Linked DNA regions of Homo sapiens: regions 1, 2 and 3 are each linked to region 4. The links come from fine-mapping of genetic effects on gene expression. A gene starts in region 4. Each other region holds a variant in brackets. All regions are shown on one strand. Distances are between the middles of the regions.

Region 1 (5,146 bases), 890 kb before region 4:
TTCTCTTCTAGGGACCCAGGTCACTTAAAGGTGTCCCAGTGTCCTTGGCCAGAAGAGGGCCCGCCCCATCCCCTCAGCTCCAGGGCTGCAGTGTTGAACTGCCTGGGTTTATTCTCTTTGTAAACACAGGCACAGGCGAGGCCAAATCTACACAGACAGCATCCTCTTGAAGTTCAGCACGGCCCTGGCTGTTGTATCCATAGGACCTATCACAGGTATAAGTGACATTTCCCAGAGATCCTCCCCAGTGGGTCTCCAGGGTAAACCCCATTGCCTGCCTACCTCTAGCCTGGAAGAGGTCCCCCTTGCATCTTTGTATGAAGAGCTGGCCTGCTCAGACCTCCCTGGGGTCCTGTGCAAATGGCCTGGGGTCAGGTCAGGACAGAGGAAATTTGTTCTGAATCCGCACCTTTGTGGGTGGAGGAGAAATGGTGAAAACGGCAGTTCCCGAAGACCCTGGGTTAAAGGCAGCCGCTCATTCCCTCTCCTGCCACCCTTGATGCCCCCTCTTCCCGGGCTAACCCTGCTCAGGCTTCAGGTCTCACCAAGGGGGTCGTTTCCTCTGTGAAACCTTCCTTACCACTAGTTGGATTCAGCTTTTTGACAGTCCCTCCTGCACTCATTCACGTGTGCCTGCATTCATATCACAAATATGTACTGCAGCCCACCACGTGCCAACCCTGGGCTAAGTGATGGGGGTCCAGCAGACAGGGCCTTTGACCCTGGAGCTCACAGTGGGGCGCAGGGGAAGGGAGGGGAAGACCCCTAGGTCTGGGGGAGGCGCTGCAGCTCCGGGATCCAGAAGGCTGCGATTCCTCCTCCCACCTTCCCCCATCTCCACGCCCGGTCTCTCCCAGGATGGCTGCGCCCCAGCTGAGATTTTGGGGACGTCGGGTCCCTGCCCCCCGGCCCCAACGTGGGGACGATCGCCCTCCGCAGGGCGGGGCTGCGCAAACAAAAGCTACGCCGCGGGGACAAAGGCTGCGCCGCGGGGACAAAGACTTCGCCGCAGCAGCTGCTGCTGCTGCTGCTGCTGGCGCGCGCGCGCGCGCGCGTGTTCTCTGCGCCCCGGACCCACGCCCCCCCCCGGCCTTTAGCCAAGCAAACAAATTCATGTTTTAGATCAAATGAGGGCAGACAGTCTCTTCCCCGCCCTCAAACATTTTCCCCCGCGCATGGCAGAGGGGACAAAGGGCGCATCCCACATGCAGCAGAGGCCACCGAACGAGGGAGCCAGGGCTCGCCGCCCACCGAAGGCCTGTGGTCCCCGCCGCACGGTGCGGCGCACTCGGAGGCGGGTGGCCGGGCTCAGGCCTTCCTAGTCCCGCGGTCCTCGCAGTCCCTGCTGGGGCCCCAGACCCCGCGGGGCGCGGCGCCGCCAGCAGTTCCGCGAAGGGCCCCGCATTGCGGCTGCGCGTCGGCGGGAGGGCGCGCGCGTGGGAGAGAGTGTGTGCACGCGCGCCGCCGGCAGCCGTGCCCCAGTTTGCTCCGCGCTGCAGTCCCCTGGCGCCCACCCCTTCCCCAGCCCTCCTCCCCTCTCCGCGGCGAACCCGTCTCCACGGCCTGGCCAGCGCGGAGGGAGAATCGGCCCAGCGCCCGCGGGGACGGGAGGGGCTGAGCCGAGAAGCTGCGGAGACCGAGGGGAGGGGCCGGGAGGGACAGGCGGGGAACGGAAGGCTCACCACCGCCCGGCCACTGCAGCATTGGCCCGGACGCAAAGTTCATGGCCAGGCCCCGTGGCTGGCCAGAGGCCCGGGACCCCCGCGCTCCCGACTAGCTGTTCCCGCGGCCCCCTTTGCGCTGCGACTGCGGCGCTGCTTCCCCTCCCCTCCCTTAGTATTTATCAAGCTGGTGAAAGGCTGGGAAGGCTGGGCCCTTGGGTGGGTGAGTGCCTTGTATTCATTTAGGGGGAAAAAGAATAGCCAGGGAAGACCCGCTTCTCCCCAGCCAGGTGGGGTCTGGCAGTTCCTCTGTCCCTGCCTCCCACTCATTCCTTGAAAGGACAACTGGCCCAGACCAAAGGAAAGCGTCCTTCAGGGCCCTGATCTGCTCTCTGCAGGGCCCCTGGGCCGAGGTGGACCCCAGGCTGGTCCCCTCTGGTTCAGCAGGGCGCTCTGAGCTGGGGGTCCAAGCTGCGGAGCTACTGTTCCCCTAGCTGTGCCCTGGCTGGTGGTAACAGAGGCGATGCTGCTGGACGCCCAGGCCTTGATGTCATCGCCGCCCCAATTCCTGTCACCCTCCTGTGTATCCTGCAGGTGCAGGGGTGCTTATTTCAACTTGGAGGCCCACAGAGTTCAGAGCTCAAAGTTCTGGGGGGGGGGGCAGCTAGGGAGCAGGTGCCCAGCTTGGCGGCAGGCCCATCTCGAGGGGCCTGGGGTGGCCGAGGTCCCGGGGTGTGTCTGTCATGAAGCAGTTGGGTGGCTCCCCTTCCCCCCGGTTTCTATGGCAGCATCCTCCCGTGCCGTAGCTTCTGGGGTACAGCTGGCTCTCTGGGTTTCCAGGGGGCCTGCAGATGTGTCCTGAGCTCTGGGGCACTGCCTGACTGTGACTTTGCTCTCTGAAAAGGCTCCATCTGCCAGGCAGGGTCCTACAGTGGTCCCAGCATCCTTGGGTTCATTCTAGTGAGGCCGGCCAAGTCACTCAGGGAGAGCCAGAGCTCTGGAGAGTTCCTGACTCCATTCCCCATTTGTTCTGCAAAACTAAAACC[A/G]GATTTCCTAAACGGGAGCCCCTGGTCACCCTGCCCTTCTTTGTTACATCCTGTGGGTGGTCATCACAGCTCTGCCTGGCTCCGGCCTCAGCCAGAGATGCTGCCAAGGGCAGCTCGGTGCCCCAGGGCAGCCCATGCTAGGGTTTGAAGACCCAAAGCCACCCCAGGGAATTGTCTCCTGAGGGTTCACCAGCCAGGGCAGCTGTCGGCACCCTCTCTCTCGGCTGGGGCAGGGACTGGGATAAGGCTGAGGTTTACACACTGGGTGGTTCAGGAAATGAACTATGTACCCAAGCCCAGAAATCCTCCAGCAGCCAACAGCAAGGGGCAGTCTGAGAGGTGAGACCCAGAAGGCCAGCTGTGGGTGCGGGGTGCGTGAGGGGGTGTTGCTTGGAGAACCCACCCCTGCAAGGGGCTCAGGCTCAGCTTAGCCCAGACCTCAACATCCTGGGCTAGCAAGGTCTCCAGCAAGGTACCCCATGGAGTGTCACCTCTGTGGGCTCACCTGATACTGAGGTTATGGACAGGCATCCCTCCTACCGCATCCCCAGTGTACTGGGCTCAGCCCCCCAGGCCTTGGCTAGCTCTGGGCCTCCTGACGTGTGCCCAGGTGGGAAATGGCAGCCTCTGGCTCTGGCGTCCCCAGCCTGCCTTTGGCAGCTCTTCTCTGCAGAGCCCCTGGTACCCCAAGGGGAACCACCAACACTCACCGACCCCCATGGCCAAGGCTGGCAGCTCTTGGAGTCCCTGCCTCTCCTTGACCACCAGGTCCTGCCTGCTCCCTTGAAGCCCACTGGGGTCCCTGACACTCTACCCTCTGCCACAGTCGTGATCCTGGGCTTGCCACAGACGCCGTACAGGCCAGAGGTGGAATTAAAATCAGCCAAGAAGCTGGAGTTGAGGGTATTTGAGGGCTTCCAGGAGAAGATTTGGCTGGTTAGCCCCAAAAGGCAGAAGCAAGCCCCCAAATTCGAAAGAAGCCCAGGCCTGAGCTGCCTCCCCGTCCTCTTTCTCGAGAGGCTTGGGGCTTGGCGATGGCCTCTGGGAACCCTTTTTGCTTCCAGGAGCCCGCGGAAACAGGCCTGGAGGGGCACAGCGGGTGCTTGGACCTTGCTGCCTGGGGTCCTTCGCCAGAGCCTCTTAGCTGCCCTGGGCTTGCTTGGCCACTCAGACAGCCCAGCAGGCGTGCCAGCCACAGGCCCACACTCACATACTTTTCAGTCTGTCCCAGGGAGAGACTGAGATTGAGGGTGGGGCCAGCCAGTGTCCAGACACAAATGGCTGACAGCATAGGCACTCAGCCTGGCGGTGGAGACCCAGTCGGCCTTCCTTTGCTCACATTGGCACCACTTCCTGCCCCTTTCTGGGTGCTTACTCTTCTTTCACACCTTGTGCAAGAGTCCCCAAGCATCCCTCTCCCTTGGTGCCTGGCAAGACGACCCAAGCACTGTTCTTACCGTCCAACGACAGCCAGTCGTGCTGGGAGGAAGGGAGCGTGGGCAGAGCCCGGGCTTTGTACTCAAACACCACCGAGTTGGAGATGATCTGGTTGTTGAAGGCAACTTGTAGGGTCACAAGACCAGTGTCATGGGCTGAAAGCGAGAGAAAAAGACCAGGTCAAGGGATGGGTGGGTACCTACAGCCTGGTGAACCACACAGGGCCTGGAATGTCCCCTCCCCACTACCCTTCATTGGTTAATGTCCAGCTCTCCTTAATGGTAGCCTATGCCTGCTCATTCGAGGCCCAAACACAATGCTGCTTCTAGGAACCTTCTTGGTTCGCCCAGACTCAGCCAGCTGTCCTGTGATCACTCCCAGGTACGTAACTGCCCCTTTGCTTTGTCCTCCGAGTGAGGGCAGGAGCTGGGTGCTCAGTACAGACTGGCTGAACAAGTGAATGAGTGAATGGCCCCCATCCCTGCCTCATGGCTGGCTGACTTCCCCTCTTGTCCCATCCTTCCTGGGTGGGGCTCGGGTACAAAATTTGCTTTGGATTTATTTGCGCTTATTTTGTTTCACCTATTCCTACAAGCTTGTCCTGACTCGATGAACAGCCAGCCATCCCTTGTATTTTTAGTTCTTCTGCTTCCCCGATGAAGGAGCTTCAGATGTGCCTCTGTTACCCTGGCCCCAGCTCAGCCCCAGTGGGTGTTGAGCTGGGGATGCTGATGTGAAGGTTGCACCTCCCTCCAGTGGCCCGACAGTAAGCTCTGGAAGACAGGGCCCTGGCAGGTCTCGTTAACTGCTGTGGCCCCAACACAGGGCTCAACAAATAACTCTATTTGTGGAATAAACGAGGTATGTTCTCACTGTGAGTAAGACGAAGCCAGCCTGCGGTGGAGACCAGCTTCAGCTCTTGGGTTGAGGTTGCCTCTCCATGGCTCATGTTGGCATCTTGGGGGCTGGCCTGTGGCCCACAGAGGTGGCCCGTGGGCAATG
Region 2 (5,146 bases), 960 kb before region 4:
AAATTCTATGAACTCATGAAATTTGTTTTAAGGAATAATAAAGAGACATTGTACTCAGGATGGCAAGGTAGAATAGGAAAATCAAGGCTGGGTGCGGTGGCTCATGCCTGTAATCCCAGCACTTTGGGAGGCCAAGGCAGGCGGATCACTTGAGGTTAAGAGTTCGAGACCAGCCTGGCCAACATTGTGAAAACCTGTCTCTACTAAAAATACAAGAATTAGGCGGGTGTGGTGGCACGCGCCAGTAATTCCAGCTACTTGGGAGGCTGAGGCAGGAGAATCACCTGAATTGGGAGGTGGAGGTTGCAGTGAGCAGAGATTGCACCACTGCACTTCTCCAGCCTTGGCAACAGAATGAGACTCCATTTCAAAAAAAGAAAAAGAAAAATCAGCATTGTTCTGTGCCGGAAAAGCCCCATTCCCGCCCTGGCCTAACCATGGATGGGCCCTTGTCCCAGCCAGTTATTCTCTATGCCTCAGATAACTGAGAAGACTACGCTTCTGAAACTCTTCTATGAAGGTGCTTTAGGAACTTTGTAAACATTTGATAAAAATTTCATGTTTAACTGTTTAAAAATTGGTTGTTAAAAGCAAATGGTTTGGGAGAATGAGAAAGCTCTGGAAATGGGTAGCAGTGACAGTTGCACAGCACTGTGAATATACTTAATGCCCCCACACTGCACACTTTAAAACAGACAAAATGGCAAACTTTATGTTATGAATATTTTACCATAAAATATTTTTACAAAGCAGATACACACACAGATATGTTATATAGTGAATCTTAATAAATTGGAGACTTCCAAAAAAATTCTACAAATTCAGAGGAAAAAAAGAAATAGTAAATGTTTTTGTTCGCATGATTCTGACTTTCATCTGTCCTCTCTGATCTTAAGAATGTCACAAAACGAAGGTTCTGTTCTAGTTTACCTTGTATTTCCGGAAAGCTGTCTGGACAAGCCTGGCAGCCTCATAGAGTTCTCTCTGTTCATGATCAGACAGAGTGAGCTGAGCAAACTCATTCTCTACCTTCTCACTGGTAGATGCACTCAGGAATTCTGACCAATCCGCGGCGGAGGGAAGGTTAGGTTTCTCGAAAGCGATTTCACTGACGGGAGAGCCAACAGGGCTCAAGCTGGTATTAGAAGAAGGGGTTAGAGGCTCGTTATATGCACTTCTGAAACAAGAGGAGAAAAAGGAGAGACAGATTAATGATTGATTTGCACCACCCATTAGATATTAATGAATGAGCCAAGATGGTATCTGCCAGAAGCCACTGTGGGCAATTAGGAACATGCCTTCATTCAGTTAGGCAAGTTGCTAAACATACCCAGTGTCCTTCGATTGAGTAAGTTTATACTCAACACCTATCATAACTTTAGTACTATGCTAAATACTAAAACCTAGTAGCAGTACACTCTACTGCCATTAGAAAACTTCAGCTGAATTAGGGGGAAACATTATGCTACATTATCTCTCTTTTTTTTCTTTTTTTTGAGACAGAATCTTGCTCTGTTGCGCAGACTGGGGTGCAGTGGTGCAATCTCAGCTGATTGTAACCTCCGCCTCTTGGGTTCAAGCAATTCTCCTGCCTCAGCCTCCCAAGTAGCTGGGATTACAGGCGCCTATCACCATGCCCGGCTAATTTTGTATTTTTAGTAGAGACGGGGTTTTACCATGTTGGCCAGGCTGGTCTCAAACTCCTGACCTCAGGTGATCCACCCGCCTTGGCCTCCCAAAAGTGCTGGGATTACAGGCATGAGCCACCGCGCCCAGCTTAACACGATCTCTTATGCTCTGATAGCAGTAAAAAAAATAATGGGAGAGGTAGGAATAGGAGCTGGGCCTTGAAAGTGGCAACAGAGCTTGTCCTCATGCTTCCTTCCTTCCTTGGTATGGTCTTCTATGACACGGCATTCATCAAATACAATCAGCCTCCCCTGCCTCCAATTACATCCGGGAATCTATGCTGGGTAGTGACCTCCGTAACTTTACTCACCGGATCTGGGCAGCACTGGGAAGGCAGTCAGCATCCGCTAGATAACTGGCCAGCCAGCTCATTGTACTGCTAATGGTGGCAGGGTCTGTTCTTTCCAATCCTGAGGACTCCATGGGCACAAAATTCTCCTGCTTGATTCGGTCAGGTGTGGCTTCAATAATGTGTTCTGCCAAGGTCATCATGTTCACCTGAAGTCAGAAGTTCACAGAACACTCAGGTTAGAAAGGAACCTTACAAGTTATCCAGGTCTACCTCCCTGCCTCGCCTTGGAGAGAAAAAAATAATCAGGCAGGAGGGCAGACTTCCACCTCAATCCAATGCAATGAAATACCATTTTAAGGTTATAACATAACACACCAAAATGTGCTGAGATCCTGAGACCTGATTATCTCCAAGTCATAGTCTGGCCCCAAACCTTTAGTCCAGTCTTGGAGAACTTCTGGCTTGTATGTACTCCCTACTCTCAGGGTCAACCAATTAATGACACTGGGCAGTTCTAGAGTAACCTGTAATATTAATGAGGTGTCACTATTAGTTACATAACCAATATCTAACCACCCCCTTTTG[T/C]CTGGCCTAGAGAACCCCGGTCTAGGCTGGGAACAGTGGCTCATGCCTGTAATCCCAGCACTTTGGGAGGCCGAGGTGGGTGGATCACTTGAGGTCAGGAGTTCCAGACCATCCTGGCCAACATGATGAAACCCTGTCCCTACTAAAAATACAAAAATTAGCCAGGTATGGTGGTGCTTGCCTATAATCCCAGCTACGTGGGAGGCTGAGGCAGGAGAATCACTTAAACCTGGGAGGTGGAGGTTGCAGTGAACCAAGATCGCGCCACTGCACTCCAGCCTGGGCGACAGCGCGAGACTCCAACTCAAAAAAAAAAAAAAAAAAAAAGAGGCCAGGCGCAGTGGCTCACGCCTGTAATCCCAGCACTTTGGGAGGCCAAGGCTGGCGGATCACGAGGTCAGGAGATTAAGACCATCCTGGCTAACACGGTGAAACCCCGTCTCTATTAAAAAATACAAAAAATTAGCTGGGCGTGGTGGCGGGCGCCTGTAGTGCCAGCTACTCGGGAGGCTGAGGCAGGAGAATGGCATGAACCTGGGAGGTGGAGCTTGCAGTAAGCCAAGATCGCGCCACTGCACTCCAGCCTGGGCGACAGAGTAAGACTCCGTCTCAGAAAAAAAAAAGAAAAGAAAAGAAAAAAAGAATCCTCAAAGCTGGTCTGGATTAAGATATTCTTTATGAGAATCAGAGATGTGGACTGATTCTTAAAAATGTCCTTGCATACCTCTTAGGAGTGGTAACTGAAACACAGCACTTCGGGTTCTTAAGTGAACTGAAAATGTTCTCGATGGAACTATACAAAGTGACAAAATGCTTCTCCTGCCAACACGAAGGAGCCTCAACAACATCCTGCTAAGTGGAAACAGCCGCAGTGGGCTGCATGGTGCATGATTCCACTTACATGAAATGTCTAGAAAAAGCAAACCTCTGGGGATAGAATCAGATCAGTGGTTGCCTAAGGCTGGGCAGAGACGGACTGCAGATGGGCACAGGGCACCGTGCAGTGAGATGGAAGTGTTCTAGAAAGGGACTATGGTGATGGTTGCTCAGCTGTATATGTTTACTAGAAGCCATCCCCTGAGCATTTAAAATGGGTAAATTTTATCATACGTAAATTATACCTCAATAAAGCTGTTAAAAATGCTTATTGTGGATAATTTTATAAATTTTTTATCATACGTAAATTATACCTCAATAAAGCTGTTAAAAATGCTTATTGTGGATAATTTTATAAATTTTCATCAAAGAACAATTCGTTTTTGTAATAACAATAAAAATAAAAAATTTAAGAAAAATATATTGGGCCAGGCGTGGTGGCTCAGGCCTGTAATCTCAGCACTTTTGTGAGGCCGAGGCGGGTGGATCGCCTGAGCTCAGGAGTTCAAGCCCAGCCTGGGCAATATGGCGAAACCCTGTCTCTACCCAAAAAAACCCCCAAAATTAGCCAGATATGGTGGTGCAGGCCTAGTGCTTTCTTACAGTATCTGTAATCCCAGATACTAGAGAGGCCAAGGCAGGAGAATTGCTTGAACCCAGGAGATGGAAGTTGCAGTGAGCCAAGATGGCACCACCGCACTCCAGCCTGGGTGACATAGCAAGACTCTGTCTCAAAAAAAAATTGCAGCTTTCTTTCACCTTCTCTATTGGCCGTCTTGATTTGTGACTCAAACGGTAGGAAGTAAATCTTGCTTTATTCTTTTTCCATGAAAGTATTCAAATATATTAAAAGTAAGGTGGAATTTCTGAAGCCTAAAAGGTTATCACTCTACAATCACTTTCCTAAATCCTCCATTTTATAAACATGTAACAATGTAAAAACATCTTAAGTAACGTTCTCAGTAGTTGGACCTGAAAAGTCACGTCACTCATTTCTAAATTTCATGGATTGTGCTCAGAGAAGACGGCCTTTAAATGGGTAGCTTTGGATTTTTATTCAAATTTTCTTCGTGTCCTAGTATATGAGCAGTTTTCATAAACATGCCTTGGACACCTGAAAAGAACAATTATATACGTAGTTGCTATGTGTATTAACTACATACACACATATAGTTATATATAAGTATATCATATATTAAATCTATCATATAGTAAATATATATGAAATCAAGCCTTCTGATTTTGTTGTTCAACTTGTTCATATGCTTTTCATATCTACTTGATCTGAAAAATTCTGAGCTATGTGTGTTAGTAGCACACTGTGATTATGGGTCCACATTTCTTTGTATTTACTAGTATTTGCTGTAATGTTTCAAGGTTATGGTGCTAGGTACACAATAGTTTATAACTGTCATATCTTCTAGATAAACTGTATGTATATATATATGTATATATACACACACACATTAATTTGCCTTGAATTGTACTTTTTATCTTTCTTTTTATACTCGTTTATCTATTATAGCTGTTATCTATCATTTCATTTTCATTGTTTCTCTTTCATTTCATTTTGATTGTATTTCTTACAAGTAGCATATAGTATATCCTGCTTTTATTTAAAAAAAAAAAAAAAAACAACCCGAGGCCGGGCATGGTGGCTCACACCTGTAATCCCAGCACTTTGGGAGGTGGAGGCAGGCAGAT
Region 3 (5,146 bases), 47 kb after region 4:
TCCACCTGCCTCGGCCTCTCAAAGCACTGGGATTATAGGCGAGAGCCACCTCGCCCGGTCCACAAAGGGTCTTTACAGATGTGATGAAATGGAAAGATGTTGAGTGAGTTATGGGGACTCTCCTGCATCATCCAAGTGGACCCAGTGGGATCACAAGAGTCCTTAGAAGAGGGAGGCATGAGAGTCAGAGTCTGAGAAGGAGATGGGATCACAACCGCCAAGGTCAGAGCGAGATGTGAAGAGGCAGCACTGCTGGCTTTGAAGAGGAGGAGGAGGGGACCACAAACCAAGGGATGTGGGCAGCCTGAGGGAGCTGGAAAAGGCAAGGAAAGGGATTCTCCTGCAGAGCCTAGAGCAGGAACACAGCTCGGCCAATGCCTTCATTTTGGTCCAGTAAGACCCATTTCCTCCATAACTGTAAGATAATAAATGGATGTGTTGTTTTAGGGCACTATGTTTGTGATCATTGGTTACAACAGGAGTAGGAAACGCATATATTTTCCCACAGGATAGTTACAAAGATTAATGAAATTGGCAGCGGGCAGTGGCTCACACCTGTAATCCCAGCACTTTGGGAGGTCGAGGCGGGTGGATCACTTGAGGCCAGGAGTTCAAGACCAGCCTGGGCCAACATAGGGAAACCCCATCTCTACTAAAAATACAAAAATCAGCCAGACTTGTTGGCGGGCACCTATAATCCCAGCTACTCAGAAGGCTGAGGCAGGAGAATCACTTGAACCCAGGAGGCAGAGGTTGCAATGAGTTGAGATGGTACCACTGCATCCAGCCTCGGCTCTGTCTCAAAATAATAAAAATAATAATAATGAAATTATGCATCTTGGAGCACAGGGTCAAAAAGAGAAAAGAAATTATGCATCTGTAGGGTTCCCAGCACAGAACCCTGCTCTCCTTAAGCTGCAGTTGTTAGCAGGCTTGTGCCATGTCATGCATAGCAGGGACAAACATGTTTATTACTGTCAGGAACATAGGTGCTGCTCTATCAGGGGTGCCCCCCACCGTCGCCTGCACCAGAAGCAGTGGAGATTTCTCATACCATGGCTGATCACTAAATGGTGACCACAAACCTCCTGAATCCACACACTTCGATGACTCTCAGGTCGGACAATCATTGGAGTGGGGGAAGGAGGGGTCCCCAAAGTAAGATCAGGAACCCCTGATGAAGCACAAAGGGGACATTCATCCTGAGGATTCCAGCCAGCATCATGCCCTTTCCTTTACCTAAGAGAATTAAAGTCCACTGGGAGAAAAGTCTCTAAACCTGCAAACTTCACACACACACACACACACACACACACACACACACACACACACAATGCCATTTGAGGCCAGACATCGTGGCTCACACCTGCAATCCCAGCACTTTAGAAGGCCGAGGCAAGAAAATCACTTGAGCCTCAGAGTTCAAGACCAGCCTGGGCAATGATGTGGCAAGACCTTGTCTCTACAAAAAAATTAGATAAAATAACATTAGCCAGGCATGGTGGTGTGCACCTGCAGTCTCAGCTACTCAGGACACAAAGACAAGAGGATTGCTTGAGCCCAGGAGTTTGAGGTCAGCCTGGCCAACTTAACGAAACCCCCTCTCAAAAAAAAAAAAAAAAAGAGCCACGCATAATGATGCATGCCTATCTGTAGTCCCAGCTACTCGGGAGGCTGAGGTGTGAGGATCGCTTAAGCCTGGGAGACAGAGGTTGCAGTGAGCTGAGATCGCAGCACTGCACTTCAGCTTGAGCGACAGTGAGACCCTGTCTCAAAAAAAAACAAAAAAGCCATTTTGGGAATGGGGAGGCAATAGTGTAAAATGGGCTCATCTGCAGTCACAATTTTGGGTTGATGTAAATGAAACAGACATAGAGTGGAGGCTCCGTAAAGGAAGGGGTGGTAGGGACCGAGGCTGCCTAGTCCTAACCAAGACCGAGGTCTCCCCCTTGGCTCTGGGATTACCAGCCTTAGGCCTGGGCCCGGGCATAATGTATCATAACTATGAAGTAAGTTCTTCAAATTATGATCATTTCAGGAACCATTTTTTATGAGAAAATAAATTTTAAATAATAGCATTTTTAACTTTTTATGGCTACATTTGCCATGTGACCGGTGACAAGGTATATTTTTGCACTAAATGGGATGCATTCATTATCTCCGAAGTAACACTCACTCGCTGGAACTACATGAGCAGGATGAAGGGACAGGCTGAATCAGACAGCCATTCTTTTCACCTGTGACATATGAGCCCACGTTCAGTGGGAAACACACACACACACACACAAAGATAAAGGTAGGATAGTCGGGCCCGTGAGTCTAAAGTAGGTCCCTAAAAGGCAGAGGAAGATTCTGAACAGAGAAATAGATTTTTGAGACAGAGTCCCAGGCTGGAGTGTAGTGGCGCAATCTCGGCTCACCTCAACCTCTGCATCTCGGGTTCAAGCGATTCTCATGCCTCAGCCTCCCGAGTAGCTGGAACTACAGGCACGAGTCACCACGCCCAGCTAATTTTTGTATTTTAATAGAGTTGGTGTTTCATCAAGTTGGCCAGGCTGGTCTTGAACTCTTAACCTCAGGTGATCAGCCCACCTCGGCCTCCCACAGTGCTAGGATTACAGGCATGAGTCACCATGGCCAGCCCAGACCAGTAGATTTTAATTCAGGCCCAGCAAACATAGTAGTTTGTGTGTGTGTGCGTGCGTGTGCGTGCGTGTGTG[CGT/T]GTGAGTGTGTGCGTGTGTGTGTGTGTGCGTGCGTGTGTGTGTGTGCGTGTGTGTGCGTGCGCGTGTTTGTGCGCGTGTGTGTGTGCGCGCGTGTGTGTGTGCGTGTGTGTGTGTGTGCGCTTTACTCATTTGTTTAGCTGTTAATTAAATAGTTTAACTTTGGTCTTATACTTCCCAAAACTTCCAAAAACGGAAAACAAACTTCAATGGATAATGAATTCTCTACCTATCTCTCCACGTTCCTATGGGAACACAGTAGGTCGGAGTTGACCCGCTGTCTGTGCAGGCTATCAGGGGTCGGGCAGCAGACAGTTGGAGCGTATGGATGGGAGGTTTGCTGGCAGGAAGACCCATGAAACTAGGCATAGGAGGCTCACATAGTGTCTTTTGTCCCTGGGGAGAAGGACAGGATGCTTTTGTATAGTGCTTTACAGTCTACACACTCCTTTTCTAAATGTTCTGTCACCTGCCTGGGACTGTCTACATGACTCGTAGGACCTGGTGCAAAATGAAAATGCAGGCCCCTTGTTAAAAATGTATAACTGGATATAGTGGCTCACACCTGTAATCCCAGCACTTTGGGAGGCCAAGGTCAGAGGATCACTGGAGCCTAGGAGTTCAAGAGAAGCCAGTGCAACATACTGAGACCCGATCTCTGCAAAATAAATAAATTAGCCATCTATGATTGTGCATGCCTGTAGTCCCAGCTACTTGGGAGGCAGAGGCAAGAGGATTGCTTGAGCCCAGGAGTTTGAGGCTGTAGTGAGCTATGATCGCACCACTGCTCTCCAGCCAGGGCAACAGAGCTGGAGCCCATCTCTAAAATAAAATTTAAAAAAAATTTTAATAGGAATTTTAAGACAGCAAATCATTAAGCCAAGTACAGGGTCCTCTGTGACTTCTCGGCTGTCTGCTTGTGGAACTGGCCCGCCCCCTGCATAATATTCAGAAATCACACCCTATGCATTCCCCACCAGGCCCACAGGCACCCCCTACCCAGCCCACCCCCTACTCCCAGCCATGCTTTTAGCTGCAAATTACAAAAGCCCAAAACTGGCTTAAACAATAAGGACATTTATTGGATCAAATGACTGGAGGCCAAGAGAAAGGGTGGGCTTTGGGACCTAGCTATTCCACTGGCTCTGCCTCAGTTTCCCTGCCATGCTCTGAGTCCTGCCCTCTTGAGCTGGTGATGTCATCCTTGGAGCAGAAGTAAGAATGGCTGCCGCAGCTTGGGGCTCTCCCATTTATTTGTGCACAGCAATGTCCAAAGGAAGAGAGACCACTTCTCCCTATGGCCGTTCCTTAAAAACAAGGACATTTCCTTCCCAACAATGTCCTTGAGAAAACATCAAACTGATCTGCAGACCCATCCCTGAACCTCTCCCTGTCACAGAGGAATGCCACTTGCTGGCCCAACCTCGGATTCTTTGACTAAGAATAGGCAAGGGGAAGGAGTGGAATTAGCTTGATTGGCTTCAGCAGCCCCCCTCCCCGCCCACCTGGTGTCAAACCACTGCACCACATCACTGCTGCACAATGGAGAGAGTGTTGCCCACCACTCTAAATGACAGTCCCCATGACCCGCCTTATCCTTTGGTGAAAACTGTCTATGGGCAGCCATGTTTTGTAGCATATGACATTGACCCTTAGCCACATTTGATAGGACTGTGGGTCTCCTGACCTAGAACAGCCAATCCAGGGACTGCGCATCATCCTGGTTTAGAAAGATGAGGTAGCCAGGCCCAGTGGCTCATGCCTGTAATCCCAGCACTTTGGGAGGCTGAGGAGGGCAGATCATTTCAGGTCAGGTGTTCAAGACCAGCCTGGCCAACATGGTGAAACCCGTCCCTACTAAAAATACAAAAATTAGCCAGACGTGGTGGCACACACCTGTGGTCCCAGCTACTCAGGAGGGTGAGGCAAGAGAATCACTTGAACCCGGGAGGTGGAGAAAGTTGCAGTGAGCCGAGATGGTGCCACTGCCCTCCAGCCTGGGCAATAGAGTGAGACTCCGTCTCAAAAAAAAAAAAAAAAGAAAAAGAAAAAAAATGAGCTGGACCAATCAGATTCTTGCCTGGGGCATTTGAAGGAAGAAACCGTAAGCTTGAGAGAATGGGGCAGTTAATGTTAAAAGTTGATATTTGCAGCCATGAAAAAGAACAAAATCATGTTTTGTTTTGTTTTTTGTCTCACTCTGTCACCTGGCTGGAGTACAGTGGCATGATCTCGGCTCACTGCAGCCTCCACCTCCTGGGTTCAAGTGATTCTCCTGCCTCAGCCTCCCGAGTAGCTGGGATTATAGGTGCGCACGACCACACCTAGCTAATTTTTTGTATTGTTGGTAGAGATGGGGTTTCATCATGTTGACCAGGCTGGTCTCGAACTCCTGGCCTCAAGTGTTCCATCTTCCAAAATCATAT
Region 4 (5,146 bases):
ACCCCCTAAAAATACACAATCCCATCAAGCTGACTACAGACACAGAATACGAACAGCATAAAAACATTTAAAACCAAAAACAAGAAAATGAGCTCAAAAGCTCTACTTTCTGACATTGGGAATCAGGCCCACTGGACGACTCAATGCTAACTGAAAGGCAAAGTCCAGAAGTCACAGAACTAGCGCTGACCCAATCTCCGATGAGCCACTTCTCCTTACACAGTAAACTGAGGCAAAGCGAGCCTCTGAGCTAGAACAGTTTTAAAGGCCAAAGCCCCAGAGCCCAACGGAACTTGTTGGGGAGGATGAGTCTCCACACTAAGCCTGTCAAAGAGTAAGACTTCCCTGCTGAGTGACAGCGGCTAGCAGCCATTCTGAATTTCGTGAAAGAGGGAGAAAGGGAGGGAGGGAGGGAGGGAGGGAGACCTGAGGAGGCAAAGCACCTGACTAGAGCCGACAGGGCTCAAATCATTCCCCTGTCCAAGAGAAAAGAACTTGAAGAATAACGTTCCCCATCCTCTCATGAAGCGTCGAGGGCCTTTCCACAGGTACATTTTGCTAATTTCACAACCTCTCTCAATTATTTAAATGGCCAAAATACAAAAGGGACATATTTACGGTCATTCGTTCCTAGTTCTGTCACAGGAAAACATATTCTTCTCACCCATCTCCTGTCGTTTGTCCAAACACACGAAATCTCTTTCCCCTACACTGCAGTAAAGAAATCAAGAACTTTTCACTCTATGCAGAATCAAGCAACGAATACCACCCCTAAATTCAGACCGCCAAAGTTGCGATGCGTATGGGCAGGCACTGTACGCTTCGCACATTCAGGGACTTGGTGAACACGCAGGATGTCGTTCTGCTTATTCAGTACAGTACACATTACAAACCAAAGAATAGTCAGAATTGGCCATTTATCCGTGATTCTTCTGCTGCTGCTTCTAAGCCTGAAGAGTTACCAACAACGTTAATATCTATCTGTATCATTACACATAAAGGTCCCCATATGCACCCAAAATGTAGAGCTAGTCATCTGACCCTTCCAACTTCCTGTGCACTGTATATGTAATGAATGTGATTTCATCTGTGTATACCTACATGTATGTATATGTAAACAAATGAATATAGCATCATGATCTGGTTCTCCAAAGCAGAACCGGAACAGCAAAAAACAGAAAGCATTCAAATTCCCCCTTCTGAAAGCTACAAGATCTAAAGAAATGTCTGGATCCCACAAGAGACAACACCAGAGCCAAAGGAAGGTTCTAGTACAACAAGGAGCACACAAGCAACCTCTTCCAGGATGGCATGTGGGCGACACGGGTGTCTACACTCCCTTTTCTGAATGGAAAGGCATATGGCTTCTCCTTACCCAGCCAACATGAATACAATTTGAGAAAATTAGAAAAAGTCAAAGTAACAGGCTCACTAAATATGGCTGACTGCGAAGCAGAAGCCACAGAGGAGGATATGAGTTCTCTCAAAAAACAATCGGGAAGTTTATATCCAGGAAAGGTTCAAGGACTCTTGAGTGTGGGACGGACAAAGTCTGGTTCTCACTGCACAGAAGACAGTAATCAAAACATCAAAAAACAAGGCCACATGACCCTTTTCCCAGTGAGGTAGTGTCAACTGATGAAGGTTGCCCCCTCCTGAGACACAAGAGTCAAGTGGAGGCAAAAATATACCCCGGTCTTCCTCAGACACAGGAGCAACTAGTGTGGCCCCTTTTCACTCAAGCACTAGGCACAATGGAAGCCCTGCCCTACATCTTATTGGGGCGCCCACTCTCACCCAGACAAGGAACTCCGAGAAGAGAGAACAAGTCAGTGTAGACACACAAATGGCGAAAGGAGCACGGTGAACGTCCAGTTGTCTCCATAAGAAAAGGAGGGCAACTCAAAGGGTATTTAGGAAATGAGCTCGCCCTAACCCAGCAAAGTGTAAGAGTATGCATGATCTGGAAGAAGTGTCTGCTTTCCTATTTAGAAATGACTTCAGAGCTGCACAAGCCCCCACTATCCACTGGGTGAGGAAAGAAGAACATGGGCAGCCTGAGTCCCCTTGTCCTGGCAAAAAGGGTCAACGGAGAGTGTGCAGAGGCCCCAAAAGAATCCAAAGAAGATGAGCAGATCAGACGGACCCCTGTGCCAAGGAAGGATCGGGGTCACGGAAGGTAAAGGGCAAGGGAGTGTGGAGATCCTCACTTGCCATAGAAACGGAGACCCCACCCTCCTGGCTGTGAGGGTGCAAGGGCAAGAGTAGGATGTGAACGACTGCGAGGGGCGGGGATGCTGCGCAGGCCCCCTTCCCTTCCCGGGAAGCGAAGGGGGAGGGGTCACACGAGGCCCTTCGGCCGAGGGACGCTCGGCAGGACGGGGTCCCCCTGGCGGGGAGAAGCTCGGGGACCCCCCGCCCGCTCAGGGAGGTGTCCACGGGGCTGAAGAGGGTGCCGGAGAGAGTACATCTGGCCCTGCCCGCCGGAGAGCAGGGGGCCGGCGAGGGCTGAGCGCCGGCCGCTGCCGCCCGACGGGGACCGGCCCGGAGCAGTGGGGCGCGGGGCCAGGAGGACCCGAGGCGGATAAACTTTCCGCCCCGCGGCCCCCACCGTGGACCCAGCGCCGGGGGTGCGGGGGCCGCGCAGCGGGCTCGGGAGCGGCGGGGATGCCCGGTCCGGGTGGGGGAGGCGCCGGCCCTCCGCCGGCTCCTCCTCCTCGCTGGGCCCGGTCCCCGCCCCGCGAGCCCCCCGCCCCCTCCGGCCCCAGCCCGCCCCCGGGGGTGGGGTGTGGGGCGCCGCGCTCCGCCGGCCCCGCGAGTCACCTCAGGACTCGGCCGCGCTCCGCCCCCCCACCCCGCCGGCCCCCTCCCCGGCCGGGTCGCCCGCCCGCCCGCCCGCCGCGCCCCCGCGCTCCCGCCCGGCGCCGCCGATGCCCGGGATGTCCGGCGGGGCCGGGTCCCGCCGCCCGCCGCGCCGCCCCCCAGCCCCTCGCGCTCCGGCTCTTACCTTCCGGCTTGTTTTCGGCAGCCATTTCCCCTCCGCGCGCCACATCCTCCTCCTCCTCGCGACCGGGACCCCGAGCGCGCGCCTCGTACCGCCGCCGCCGCCGGCCCAGCCACCCCGCCGCCGCCGCGCACCCGCCCTGGCCCCGCCCCGCGGCCCACGCACAGCTCCCGTTGGGCCGTGCGGCTGCCACTCATCGCTCCCGCCGCCAATCGCCCCGCACCAGGGGTCTCACTACTCTCCGGGAGGAGCGTCCTATCCATCCGGCCCATTGGCTGGTCACCACCCAACGGACTGAAAGGATTGGTCAAGAATCAACGCCCCCTCCCCACCCACTCCCAGGAAAGCCCGCCTTCCGGACCTAAACAAAGCTTCCTAGTGGCCAGAACCCGAAAGAACTGTCCAATCAGGACGGGCCCGACACGGAATATTTCCTCGAGGCCGAGACGTGGCGTTTTGATTGGGCGTCACTACAGTGTTTCCCAGGCCGTCCAGACCAATCAAAGGGGGTTCCCGGAACTCGGGAGCGGCGAAGGGAAGCCCCGCCCCCGAGCGTGACCGTCATGAGGAAGGCGCTCCCTCATTGGCACGCTGGGGCTTTTCCCGCGTGCTCCCGGGGCTGAAGGACGTTCCCGGGGAAGCCGCTGCTGGCGCGTGGGGTCCCGGTGGCTGTGGGGGACGCGCCGGGATCTCCGGGATCCCGCAGCCCGCCGCCGCTGCCGGTGGGGAGCCGGACGCGGGGGGCCTCGGGGCTGAGGTCCGCAGGGGTGCCGCGCCCTGGAGTCCGACTGCCTAGGAGTCCGGGCGTCGCTGCCGGCCGTGGGGGAGGGGCGAGCCTCCCGCCAGGCCCCGCCCCCTCGGCGCCGCGTCCCCACGGCCCCGGCGCCGCCCGCCTGCGCCCGCCTCCTGTGCCCGCCCCCGGTGAGCTCCGTTGTCCCCTTTTCTGGCGGCTTAAAATACCGAAACTTTATTTTGGTCACGTTGCCCATGTGACCCGCGGAGCGGATGACTCATGGTTGCCTGTCCCAGGATGAGGCCGCCGGCCGAAAGCAGAGAAGCGCCAGCCCCGGCCGCCCGGGTGGAGCGCTGGGCAGCCGAGTTTCCCACCCTCCTCAATCCGGAGAGTCCGCGCGGGGCTTTTCCTAATAAATAGCCAGGCACCCGCTGCCCTCGCGCTGCGTACGGGAGCACGTGCCCCCCGGGAGGTGGGCGCCCGCCAGGTGCCCCGGGAACGAGCCTAGGAACCGGGTCCGCCGAGTGCGGCTCTCGGGGCGGCTAGGCGTGCGGGTGGCTGGGCAGCGCTCCCAGGGACCGGCCTCTCTCCGGAGAAAGTAAGGAATTCTGCTCCTGGGCAGGTAATACCGGAAACAAAAGGAGAGGCTGCAATCGCAAATTGTTTAAAAAGAAGAAAAAGGAAAGAAAAGTTGAATGTAAGAGCTCCAGCCCCTCAATGTGATCTTGTACGGTTTGCAGTAAGAACATTTCATTCTTCCGCATTTTATTTTTCCTTTTGCTACTGTTGGTGACAACTAGCAAAATAAGTGAAAAATCCTCGTTCAAGTGTTCTGGCATTAAGATTGACTGTCACACTGAATTCTGTGCCAATCCTAACAACATGTGTTCTTTTTCTGGTCTTCACAAGTAAGAATGTCTTAGGTTTTCCAGAAATAAAGATGTCCCAAAAGAATGTTTTGTGTTACACACTCATTCTTCAAGAAACTTTAATTTTATGAGCCTCAAAAATTGCAAAATTTTAACAACGGCGGGACAATATTTTATCGATTAGCATTCTTAATAGCACCTATGTTGACGATTTGTGTGGAGAAACGGATTCTTAAAAGAAGTGCTGGTGGCATTGTAAATTAGTATATTCCTTTCGAAAAGCAATTTTACAGTATGTATTAAAAGCCATAAAAATGTCTGCATCTTTTGACCCAGTGATCTTACTTCTGGGAATCTGTTCTAAGGAAATAACACTAAATGCCAGAAAAGCTGTATGTGTGAAGGTATTCTTCACAGGATCACTGTACTTAACTACAACAAAAAATTGGGAGCATCCTACATGTGCTAATATTGGGTATTTAGTAAATTGTGTTACATCTACACAGTGGAACATTATGGTAGTTGTAGACATCAGAAACA

Direction of the effects. Positions count from the first base shown, and alleles are read on the strand shown. Sizes are in standard deviations (SD) of each study's normalised expression. Not every link is listed here.
As copies of G replace A in region 1, the expression in lung of the gene that starts at base 3,129 in region 4 goes up (small effect, 0.18 SD a copy in GTEx).

Evidence for each region. PIP is the estimated chance that this variant, and not a neighbour inherited with it, causes the effect.
Region 1: its variant is fine-mapped to the expression of CAMTA1 in lung (TOPMed, PIP above 0.99). The same link has a PIP of 0.9 or more in breast and subcutaneous fat.
Region 2: its variant is fine-mapped to the expression of CAMTA1 in whole blood (INTERVAL, PIP above 0.99).
Region 3: its variant is fine-mapped to the expression of CAMTA1 in whole blood (INTERVAL, PIP 0.96).

What each region holds. Positions count from the first base shown.
Region 1 is chr1:7,676,752-7,681,897 of GRCh38, reverse strand. It overlaps CAMTA1 (calmodulin binding transcription activator 1), which reads right to left. Exons shown (of 23, transcript NM_015215.4): 11 at 4,165-4,299. Among named protein-coding and RNA genes, the nearest start is that of VAMP3, 92 kb to the left of the region's middle. The variant A/G (reference allele first, on the strand shown) is at 2,708.
Region 2 is chr1:7,741,876-7,747,021 of GRCh38, reverse strand. It overlaps CAMTA1 (calmodulin binding transcription activator 1), which reads right to left. Exons shown (of 23, transcript NM_015215.4): 17 at 2,000-2,187; 18 at 931-1,177. Among named protein-coding and RNA genes, the nearest start is that of VAMP3, 27 kb to the left of the region's middle. The variant T/C (reference allele first, on the strand shown) is at 2,567.
Region 3 is chr1:6,736,729-6,741,874 of GRCh38, reverse strand. No RefSeq gene overlaps it. Among named protein-coding and RNA genes, the nearest start is that of LINC01672, 15 kb to the right of the region's middle. The variant CGT/T (reference allele first, on the strand shown) is at 2,721.
Region 4 is chr1:6,783,437-6,788,582 of GRCh38, reverse strand. CAMTA1 (calmodulin binding transcription activator 1) reads right to left here and starts at 3,129. Exons shown (of 23, transcript NM_015215.4): 1 at 3,008-3,129. The coding sequence starts at 3,052. CAMTA1-DT (CAMTA1 divergent transcript) reads left to right here and starts at 3,603. Exons shown (of 3, transcript NR_149049.1): 1 at 3,603-3,925; 2 at 4,360-4,434; 3 at 4,538-4,691. RefSeq lists silencers at 2,377-2,556, 2,567-2,836, 3,047-3,206, 3,547-3,956, 4,087-4,146 and 1 more and enhancers at 3,412-4,086, 4,087-4,763.